Regions from separate parts of the Homo sapiens genome. Here region 2 is linked to region 1. Evidence: fine-mapped expression QTL. A gene starts in region 1. The other region holds a variant in brackets. All regions are shown on one strand. Distances are between the middles of the regions. Region 1 holds the start of ABRACL (ABRA C-terminal like). Region 2 overlaps ECT2L (epithelial cell transforming 2 like).

The links. PIP is the estimated chance that this variant, and not a neighbour inherited with it, causes the effect. A credible set is the group of variants that fine-mapping cannot tell apart.
Region 2: its variant is the best candidate, but not a certain one, in a credible set for the expression of ABRACL in monocytes (TOPMed, PIP 0.75).

Annotation. Positions count from the first base shown.
Region 1 is chr6:139,025,749-139,031,108 of GRCh38, reverse strand. It overlaps ABRACL (ABRA C-terminal like), which reads right to left and starts at 2,364. Exons shown (of 3, transcript NM_021243.3): 1 at 2,234-2,364. RefSeq lists silencers at 1,171-1,361, 1,411-1,780, 2,041-2,200 and enhancers at 581-1,400, 1,223-1,517.
Region 2 is chr6:138,882,887-138,888,267 of GRCh38, reverse strand. It overlaps ECT2L (epithelial cell transforming 2 like), which reads right to left. Exons shown (of 22, transcript NM_001077706.3): 17 at 2,689-2,762; 18 at 2,438-2,594; 19 at 1,346-1,411. Among named protein-coding and RNA genes, the nearest start is that of ECT2L, 89 kb to the right of the region's middle. RefSeq lists an enhancer at 5,346-5,381. The variant CA/A (reference allele first, on the strand shown) is at 2,822.

The DNA.
Region 1 (5,360 bases):
AAGATGTTATCTCTTTAACACCCTTCTTCGCTCCTTCCTCCCACCTCCAGCAACATACTTCAGACTTAGCTCTCATTGAATAATGAGCATCAAAGGGGAAATTCATCTATTATATATAGTACGCATACCTGCATTATAGTAAGCAGATGTACGTTCATCCAATTTTAAGCATGAAAGGCAACCAGCGTTTCTTTATAATTAATTACACATCAGGCTCCTTATCTACGTTAATTCATGTAGTTCTAAGAACCTTGCAAGGCATTTATTTACCTCTATTTTAAGGATAACGAAACAGGGGTTAATGCCCCACAATTAAATGCTGTCTCTACCACATCGTGGTGGCTGTTTCCCCGCTTCCTCTTCCTCTTTTGCCATTATGCAAATACACTAAATATAATAGTGAGTGGTATTTGTATGAAACGTGACATGCTGAGCTCTTACCAAGGCAGAACACTTACAAAGCAAGAAAGGCTCCCTGCCCAGACCACCATAAATAGGAAAATAACAGGTTTAAAAACAATTGCTAGCATACATAATTTGACGTTTTATTTATTTATTATTTAGGAAGGAGAGGGACAAAGGGGGAAAAATACCTATTGTGACACAATCCTTTAAAGACCCATGGCCTTTTATAATAAGGACAGAATCCCAGGACTGCAGAGAGCAAGATGAAGAACAATGAAGGGGGCGGAGGGTGAAGAGAGGTTGATGGGTATAAACACAGAAGAAATAAGACCTGGTGTTGCATTGATCAGTGGGGTGACTATAGTTCACATTAATGGATTGTACACTTCCAAATGGCTAAAAGCAAGTTAAGTTGAATGTTCCTAGCATAAAGAAGAGATAAATATTTAGGGTGATGGATATACCAATTACCCTGATTTGGTTATACGAATGTAACACATTCTCACGAGTACCGTGAAACTATGTCTAAGAAAAAAAAAAAGAAAAGAACAATGAGGAGAGGTGAGAAGCAGAGCAAGTCTAAAGGGAAGAGCTTAATGGTGAGCGGCTGGACCAGAAGACAGGAAAAGGCTCCAGGGAAGGCGAGGTAGATGACGGCCAGGCACTCTAATTGTCGCAGAATCGATTTCGGCTTTGTGCGTGGGAAACACAAAGGAAGCGGAAAGTCGGAGGACTGGGCAGAACCCGAAACTCACCACCAATACACACTTTAGAATGTATTTAAGGACCCTCAGGGCATTGTTATTTTTCAAAAGTTTGGAGGCAATGCATGGAGATTTTCTAATATCCAAGGAAATAAAGCCTACTGGAATAGGTATGTCCGGAATCAGGAACCAACTTTACACACTCGGGCTGGGCACGTTTTCCCAGCCCTTCTTCGCAATCGCGGACAAGCAGCTGGTGCGGGTCAAAGGGTGACTGGGCTCCTTACTCCCTCCGGTCTGGGGCGCGCTCACTCCATATTTGGCCATTCTGCTACCAGCTTGGGGTTCTGCCTGGTAGAGGTCCCCTAACCCCGTGCCCTGCAGCCCATCATCACACGGTCACCGCCGGCACCAGTGCAGGGCTGGGGAGCGCGGGGCTGGGCCCCCCGTGGCGGGGCGGCACCGCTGGCGCCCGGGAAGGGCCGCGTCCCGGAAGTCTTTGTCTCCGCAGCTCCCGGCCCGGCGCCGCGGGTCTGCCTCCCCCGTGGCCCGGGCGCCCCGAAGCGCCGCGAGAGCGAGCACCCAACCCGGGCGACGAAAACGGACCCTGCCCCGGGCTCCACGAGCCCCTGGTGTCCCCTCACGACTCTGCACCCCCTGATCTGGAGCGCACAGAGCCGCACCCACCTCCGGCGCTGCAGAGTCCACTGCCCTGAGGCCACCACGTTCCTCGGGGCAGCCTCTCCTCTCGCCCCCAGCCCTTCCCCACCCAGCTCTGCAGAACTGGCTCCTGAACCACCGCCAAGTGCAAAGCCGACACGTCGCACCGCGGTAAAAATCGTTCCATTTCTGCCGGCTTCCCAGTCCGCCCCCGGCCGGCGAAACGTCACGTGAGCCGAGTGCGGAAGTCGACCCGAGAGGTGGGGGCGTGGGCGGCGCGCGCCCCACGGGACCCCAACCCGCGAGGTCTCGGCCCAGCCGGTCGCAGCTTCCGCGCGCCCTGAGCCCCCTCCCGGCCCCCTCCTGACCCGACTCTCACCGCAGCCCGCGGTGCCCGGCGGCGCACCACGGACACCCAGTCCATCCCTGCTACCTAAGCCACATCTGCCCGGGCGCTCACGCACCTCTCTGCGCGGTTTTCCTTCCCGCCGGAGAACTGGCGCCGCGTGGGTCTGGACCCGGTTACCTTCTTCAGTGCACTGGGGAGGGTGAGGCCAAGGAAGGAAGTGGCTGAGGCAAAGAGAAAGACGGCTGTGGAGGAGGAGGAGCAGGGTAGGGGGAAAAGTAAGTGTTTCTGCGCTCAAGAAAGGGGCCGCCCACACTCCCAGGGACAAGCCTATGAGGAGGAAACTCAGGGGAGGAGACGTCCAAGAAAGGGGCTGACTGCAGACAGGTGAAGCGCCCTGGGCTCCTAGGAAAACGGGCCCAGAGCCTGGATTACCTCACTTTTCCACCGTGCTACTCAGAGCCAAGGATCCCAGGATCTGCATCTGATCCTGGGCGTCGATTTCCTGATGGATTTCTCTCCCAACGTAAGAAACAAAGCGCCCTCAAATTGCTGAAGGCTGCTAGAAAGAACGTGGCATTCATGGGTTCCGGATGCCGGGGGCCTCCAGAAAACTACGACTCATGACTTAAAAATGGCTTAATTCGCAAAACAAAATGCAATCTTGAAAGCCAATTTGTCAGACTGCAAAGAAATTTTACTTGGACATAGATAGTTGTTGACCCTGGGTCAGTATCGGTTTCTTCCCTTGTTCATTCATTATTTCATACATTTAACTTCATAATTCAATTTATTCATGCTCCCTTTGTTTTAGTCACTGTTATTTTAATATATGCGTGTGTGAGAGAGAGATGCTTACCGTACCCAGAGAGTCCTTTTGGAAAGGAAACAGTTACCCAAACTATTTCTAGAGCAGGGGTTGCACAAATAACTACAAAAAACGTTCCTTACCCCCTCCCCACCCCCAGCCCAGCTAATTTAAATTAAGAGTGATCGCGTGACCCAAGAGCGCACAATCCGTGATGTAGTCATCATCCTGTGAGGTGACCTGGAGCAAACAGTTCTCATCAAACACGGACTCTGATAGTTAGTAAGCCAATCAGACACTCCCTTGGAAATGGAAAGTGGAGAATGCAGAGACGGAGCTGTCTGATGTAAGAGAAAGGTTGGAGCTAAGAGAGGGTAAGGCAGAAGGGGCCAAAATGGGCTTCGGATGCAAAACATTTGAGTAAGCAGAAACCAGGAGAATGTAGCAGCAGGTTGGGTGGAGGCACAAGTGGTAGAAGCCAGTCAAAGACAAGCTGAGACCAAGTGATGGAAGGAGAGCAACAAAGACCTGCTTCCCAGGGGCATGTGAGTGTTCAGTTCCCTGGGGCTGCACTGGATCCATCCACTTCCCACGCTTCATTCTAGTCTTTACGGTGAATACCTGTCTCCTGGGTGTGACTGAAGGAGTCTCTGTTCTGTAATCTTCAACAAAGGTCTGATTCTTCTAAGTGTCTCATGGCAGATAAAGTTTAAGGTGACTCCAAGATCTTTTCAGACCTATTTTTTTCTTTTACTTGTTTTATATTGTTACCAAAATGATTGAGGCCTATTTTTTTCTCACCAAAAGAAAGGTGAGAAGTTATAGTTTATATCTTTCACAGTCGACATAAGGCAAAAAATATATAATTCAAGAAAAATATATTTAGCAATTATCGAAGCAGGACCTCGCTATTTTGGCCTGTGACAGGGATCACAATTCATCAGTCAGATAATATCCAATGATAGGAATAATGAGTCTGGAGAGCACCGCTTCTGTTATGATTAGGTAATTAGTATTGCCCTAATTGCCAACCAAAGAAAAAGAAATAGGTTACTTTACCTAAAGAAGTAAACATCCTTGTTAATATAAAAATAAACTCACCCAAAAGATACTTTGTTTACACATGTGCTAAACTAAGTATAACACAAGCTTTATGTTAATCTATAAGGAATTACAATTTAAGAAAATTGTTTTGTCGGCTGGGCGCAGTGGCTCATGCCTGTAATCCTAACACTTTGGGAGGCCAAGGTGGACGGATCACCTGAGGTCAGGAGTTCGAGACCAGCCTGCCCAACATGGCAAAACCCCGTCTCTACTAAAAATACAAAAATTAGCCAGGCGTGGTGGCACATGCTTGTAATCCCAGCTACTCTGGAGGCTGAGGCAGAAGAATCACTAGAACCCAGGAGGCGAAGGTTGCAGTGACCCAAGAGCGTGCCACTGCACTCCAGCCTGGGCAACAGAGTGAGGCTGCATCTCAAAAAAAAAAAAAAAAAAAAAAAAGGAAAGAAAAGAAAAGAAAAGAAAAAAGAAAGCTGTTTTGATAAAAGAAATATTAAAAAATCTTAACTAATATTTTTCATATCCAATCCTAGTCCTTCAATTTCCAAATAGACTTTTGTTATCTATTCTTATTCCCTCAGGAATATCATCATGTACAATGTAAGCAATGTGGAAGTTTAACCTAAAAAGAAAATAATACAATTTATCAAATTAAAGAGTATTTAATATATTTTAAATAAATGTGCCAGCCACAAAGTGCCAATACTAAATCGTCCAAAGTAGCCCATGACCTGTCCTTTGTCAAACAGAACTGCAAGTAATGTACATTTGAAATATTAAAACAATCCTTATCCATGTATTTAATTGCATGCATTGTAATTTAATTGCATGTATTTAATTCGGACCAGCACTGTCCGAAGGAAATAAAATTGTGAACAACACGTCCAATTTAAAATTTCTAGTAGCCACATTTTTTTTAAAAAGGTGAGATTTATTTTAATAATATGTTTTATTTCACCCAGTATATCCAAACTACTATCATTTCAACCTGTAATGGATATTTTGAAATTATTAATAAGACATTGTACATTCTTTATTTCATACTAAATCTTGTAAGTCTATTTTGTATTTTACATTTACCCAACATTTCAGGTGCTCAATAGCCTTCTATGGCTAGTGGCTGCTGTATTAGACAGTGTAGCTATAGACAATTCCAGAATAAAGCGTTATATTATATGCTAATACTTTACTTAAAAACTTATTACATGTTCCTGGAAGGAGAAAAATAACACTATGATATTTAAACACTCATGGAAAATCGAAGTCATTATTTTAAAAATGCAGTTGTCTGCACTGTAATGAATAGAAAAAACTTTTCTATTTTTTCCTCTATCTTAGAGGATCTCTAGGATGGCAATTCCATCCTGGGTATATA
Region 2 (5,381 bases), 140 kb after region 1:
TATATTGATCTAGTCATGGGGATGAGCTCTTGGTGTGAACAGTGATCCAGAGAGAGTTTTGTAGACTCTGAGTTTCAAGAATTTGGATCTTTGCAAACCAATCAACCTCAATTATCTTTCCCTACAAAATGTCCAGACCAAAATTATGACAAAACAACTTCATCTTGCTTCCCCAATTTGACTAAATAAAAATAACATTTCTAATCAATTGATACTTTAATTCAACGTAACTCACATCCTGAGCTCCTCTTATGTGCCAGACATGAGAAGGCAAGTAAATCATAGCTCACACATGATGGAGCTCCCAGTTTCATGAATAAAGGATTGCAGTAAAATGTAACAGGAATGTTCAGGATGCAAAATCCCTACAAAGAAGCCGCTGACAGCTGGAAATGCTGGGGGAAACTTTGCAAAGGATATGATGATTGAACTAGATTTTTATAGAATGAATAGGGGTTTATCCAGTGAAATAGGAAAGAAAAGCAATTTCAGAGAAGAAAGAGTATGCACAAAGCACAAATGTGTGAAAAGAGGTTAACATTAGAGAATCGTGAGTGGATCTGTGTGGTATGATTATAAGGAAGTCAGGAAAACTGTAAGAGATAAGGGAGGGTGGGGCCAGATGAAATTCTATAGGTTAACACGTCGCTAACACAGGCCTTCTAAAGCTTGTTCAGATACCATCAGGGTGCAGAATCCTGCACCAGGTATCATATGCAGGGAGATAGAAAACAAGTAGAACATGGCTGGGCGTGGTGGCTCACGCCTGTAATCCCAGCACTGGGAGGCCGAGGCGGGCAGATCACAAGGTCAGGAGATCGAGACTATCCTGGCTAACACGGTGAAACCCCATCTCTACTAAAAATACAAAAAATTAGCTGGGCGTGGTGGTGGACACCTGTAGTCCCAGCTACTCGGGAGGCTGGGGAAGGAGAATGGTGTGAACCCGGGAGGTGGAGCTTGCAGTGAGCTGAGATTGTGCCACTGCACTCCAGCCTGGGCGACAGTGTGAGACTCGGTCTCAAAAAAAAAAAAAAATTAAAGAAAAGAAAACAAGTAGAACACATGGCCCCTTTCCTCACAGGGCATTGTGATCACAGTAATACCAATAAAGGAGCAAAGACTGCCAAAAAGTTATGGGATAGGGGCAAGCTCACTTGTGCCCCTTCTTATAGAGCAACCTTGCAGGTAACAAGGATGTGAAATGGGAGAGCATGGCAGTGCCTGGCACGTAGCAGGCATTCCACAAATACTAGCTGCCTTGGGATCTGTAGGTCTCCTTTTGCAAAAGACTGGAGGTTGTATTCATGAGCATGAGATACAGCAAGTTCCTAAGAATACATACAGGGCATCCCCAGATGATTCTCTGTATATCTGACAGATGATCCTTCATAGTGATGTTTTGCTTCATCTAGGGGAAAAAAAGTACTTTTAGGCAAACTAAAATTGTGACATTTTTATTCATAAAAGAAATAGATTAAAATATTTTATGGCGCTTGATACAGGGCTTGGTATTTTCATATGTTATAATAGAAAGTTTCAAATTTCTGGGCCGGGTGTAGTGACTTTCGTCTGTAATCCCAGCAATTTGGGAGGCTGAGGTGGGCTGATGGCTTGAGCTCAGGAGTTCAAGACCAGCCTGGGCAAAGTGGTGAAACCTCATCTCTACACACATTTTAAAAAAGCCAAAAAAAGAGCCAAGCATGGTGGCGCCTGCCTGTGGTCCCAGCTACTCAAGAGGCTGAGGTGGGAGGATTGCTTGAATCAGGGAGGCAGAGGTTGCAGTGAGCCGAGATCACACCACTACACTCAAGCCTTGGTGACAGAGCCAGACCCTGTCTCAAAAAAGAAAAAAAAAATTTCAATTTTCTGTACCCAATGTTTTAAAACAAAGGCAAGTGACAAAACTGAATGCAAAAAAGTATCTGCATGGAAAAATGTGTTAGCAGTTTACATTCAGCCCAGATGCCTGTTTACAGTATGCACAATATAATAATAATATTTTCAGAATGATAGTACTGTACTCCAAGGTGCTTAATTACTTCTTCAGAGAATAATTATGACCATTGTACTCACTGAGGCAGGAAAGCTAATTAATGCATTGAAAGTACTTTCAGAAACAAAGGATTTTACTTTTTTTTTTTGCCTTTTAGTTGTGTAAAAAATCAGTCCAAATACTTCATTCTTCAAACTTTCATAAAAATTTCATTATATTTGTACAAATATCTGAAAACATTGTCTCATGTTGCTTGGCTTAGAATAGATGCCCTTAGTGTTGGAAATCACGGAACACACTATTGATTTAGCATTAAAAGGATGAAAGACTTTAAAGCGAAGAACCCCACAAGAAGATAAGGTGTCTCAGGATCTTTGAGTGGGAGTACCACAAAGGCATTGTAACATGTTTAAAGGACACAGATTCTTATCAGCAACCAACCTGATCTATATAACCTTTATATTTTTTGATTTGGTCAATTGCAGTGGTCAAGTCCCCACGGTCAACATGCTCTGCAGGGGTATGAAGCCTGACAGCGTAGAGAAGATTAAGGTATTCTTCAAATCTTCGGGATGGGTACAGCAGCAGCTCTGGCAGGCTGTATGAGGCATAGAGAAGGGAGCTCTGGTCTCTGAAGGCCCAGGAATGCCCTCTCTGGGGGGACCCCTGCTGTGCTCTCCCTCAGAACGTACCTCAGCATTTTGGTAACAATGGTCTTATCATGCCTCTTCAGGAAAGTTCGGAATGCTGGTATCATTTCTCTGCACTAAAAGGTGAGGATTATATTGTCAAAACTTTATGAGATAGTTGTAAAGTCCACTGTTC[CA/A]CTGAGCAAGCATGATCTATGGAATGCCTGAAGCAAAAGGGCAACATCTATGTCTAACCAATTAGTAGACTGTTAGTAGTGCCATTGGTGTCTTCCTAATATGTTAAGAATGTGTGTTGGCCGGGCGCTATGGCTCATGCCTGTAATTCCAGCACTTTGGGAGGCGGAGGCAGGCGGATCACGAGGTCAGGAGATGGAAACCATCCTGGCTAACATGGTGAAACCCTGTCTCTACTAAAAATACAAAAAATTGGCCAGGCGTGGTGGCGGGCGCCTGTAGTCCTAACTACTCAGGAGGCTGAGGCAGAAGAATGGCATGAACCTGTGAGGCGGAGCTTGCAGTGATCCAAGATAGCGCCACTGCACTCCAGCCTGGGCAACAGAGCGAGACTCCATCTCAAAAAAAAAAAAAAAAAAAAAAAAGAATGTGTGTTAATTATACATAGACCTGACCCTATTCATTGAACTTAATCAGTATAGACAAATAAGAATGTACTTTGCAACCAGGTGGGCCTGGATTTGAATTAGAATAAATCGAATATATAACCTTGTCAAATTACTTAACTTTTCTGAGCCTCAGTTTTCTCATCTGTAACATGGATATCATCTCTAATGTTGTGGTGTGGAAAAAAAACAATCCTATCCATAAAGTGGCTGTCACACAGTAAATGTTATTTCAGTATAGTAAGATCTTGACTATTAATGGTATTCACCTTTAATACTTCTGTTAATTACGTTTTCCATAGTAATATTTATTATACAGGTATTCTACTGTACTTAATATATTTTTTTTGTTTTTTGTTTTTTTGAGACAGAGTCTTGCTCTGTCATCCAGGCTGGAGTAGAGTGGCATAATCTCGGCTCACTGCAACCTCTGCCTCCCAGGTTCAAGCGATTCTCCTGCCTCAGCCTCCCAAGTAGCTAGGATTACAGGTGCCCGCCACCATGCCTGGCTAATTTTTGTATTTTTAGTAGAGACGGGGTTTCACCATGTTGGCCAGGCTGGTCTCGAACTCCTGACCTCAGATGATCCACCTGCCTAGGCCTCTCAAAGTGCTGGGATTACAGGTGTGAGCCACCGCACTGAGCCTTAATATCTGTTTTAAAATGTATTCATTTATCACTATTAGAGCACCCGTAAAGTTACCTCCCTTTCCATGCCTGAAAGATGTCAGCAATGCTAACTTACAGAAATCAAATATTCACTGATTTCATTACTGGACTTTCGGCTAAGACCAAGTGAAATATTCATGGATTTCAATCATATTAATAGCTAACATTGGCTGGCATGGTGGCCCACACCTGTAATCCCAGCACTTTGGGAGACAGAGTTGGGCAGATTGCTTGAGCCCAGGAGTTTAAGACCAGCCTGGACAACATGGTGAAACTCCGTCTCTACAAAAAATACAAAAAAATTAGCCAGGTGTGGTGGCACATGCCTGTAGTCCTAGATACTTGGTAGGCTGAGGTGGGAGGATCACCTGAGCCTGGGGAAGTCGAGGCTGCAGTGAGCTGTAATCATGCCACTGCACTCCAGCCTAGGTGACAGAGGGAGACCCTGTCTCAAAACAAACCCCACAACCAAATAACTAACATTTAAGCTAAGTACTTACTTGTGTGCACACACTGGGCTAGTGAACTAGGCATCATTATCTATAGCTAAAAAAATTTAGGCACCAGTGTGTTCCTGATACCATGTGATACTTTGCTCCAATCCTTGTCTCCAAGGTCGGTTCTATGAAACTACCTTATTTATGTAACTTTTGAATCATCAAGTTGTCCAGCAGGGACTAGACTCCCTGGGTGGGGTAGAAGGAATACTACAAAGGAAGCTGTCCAAGGGCCGGAGCCCTCCAGAGGCCTCCCAGCCCACAGGCCTTTCCTGCAGGGCCTCAGTGAAGACGAGTGGTCACAGTGGACTCTGGCAGAAGTGTGCTGCCATGTGACAAGGTAGCCTTTTCTAGGCTTTCGATACCAATTGAGGAGGGAAGAAAGAGGGATGTTATTCCCATAAGAAGGTATCCCCACAAGAGCAGCAAGTGGTACATGAGGGAATTGGATATTCCTGCTCAGATTAAATAATGCCAGAAATTGCAACAGGGAAAACTGTTAATAATTTACTCTCTAGGAAATGTAAGACCAAGACATTCCTTACTTGATAGTGACATTTCATAAATTGATTGTTCTTCCAAGAAAGATGTGGATGATTAATTTATTTTCTACATGAGAGAGTGAACTTGTCAAGGATACACAGGATTGTAGTAGCAGAGTGGATTCCAAGCTCAACTGTGGAGCATTTTCCTGTAAGCTGAGGGTATCTGGGGCAGGTGAAAGCCTGGCCATTTGCATGAGGATGAGTTCAGTTTAAGAACCAGTTCCTGGCAATGCTGGGTGTCAAATATTGTGCTAGCCCCTAAGTCAGGGTTCCTGTCCTCAGAGATCACACAGTATGGGAAGACAGCTGGGAGCTAAGAGCAGAGAAGCCTTTCTTATTAACGCTGGTCTTTCGGGTTCCACACGTAACTTCCTTTCTAGCTCAGGTCTTATAGAATGATGGAA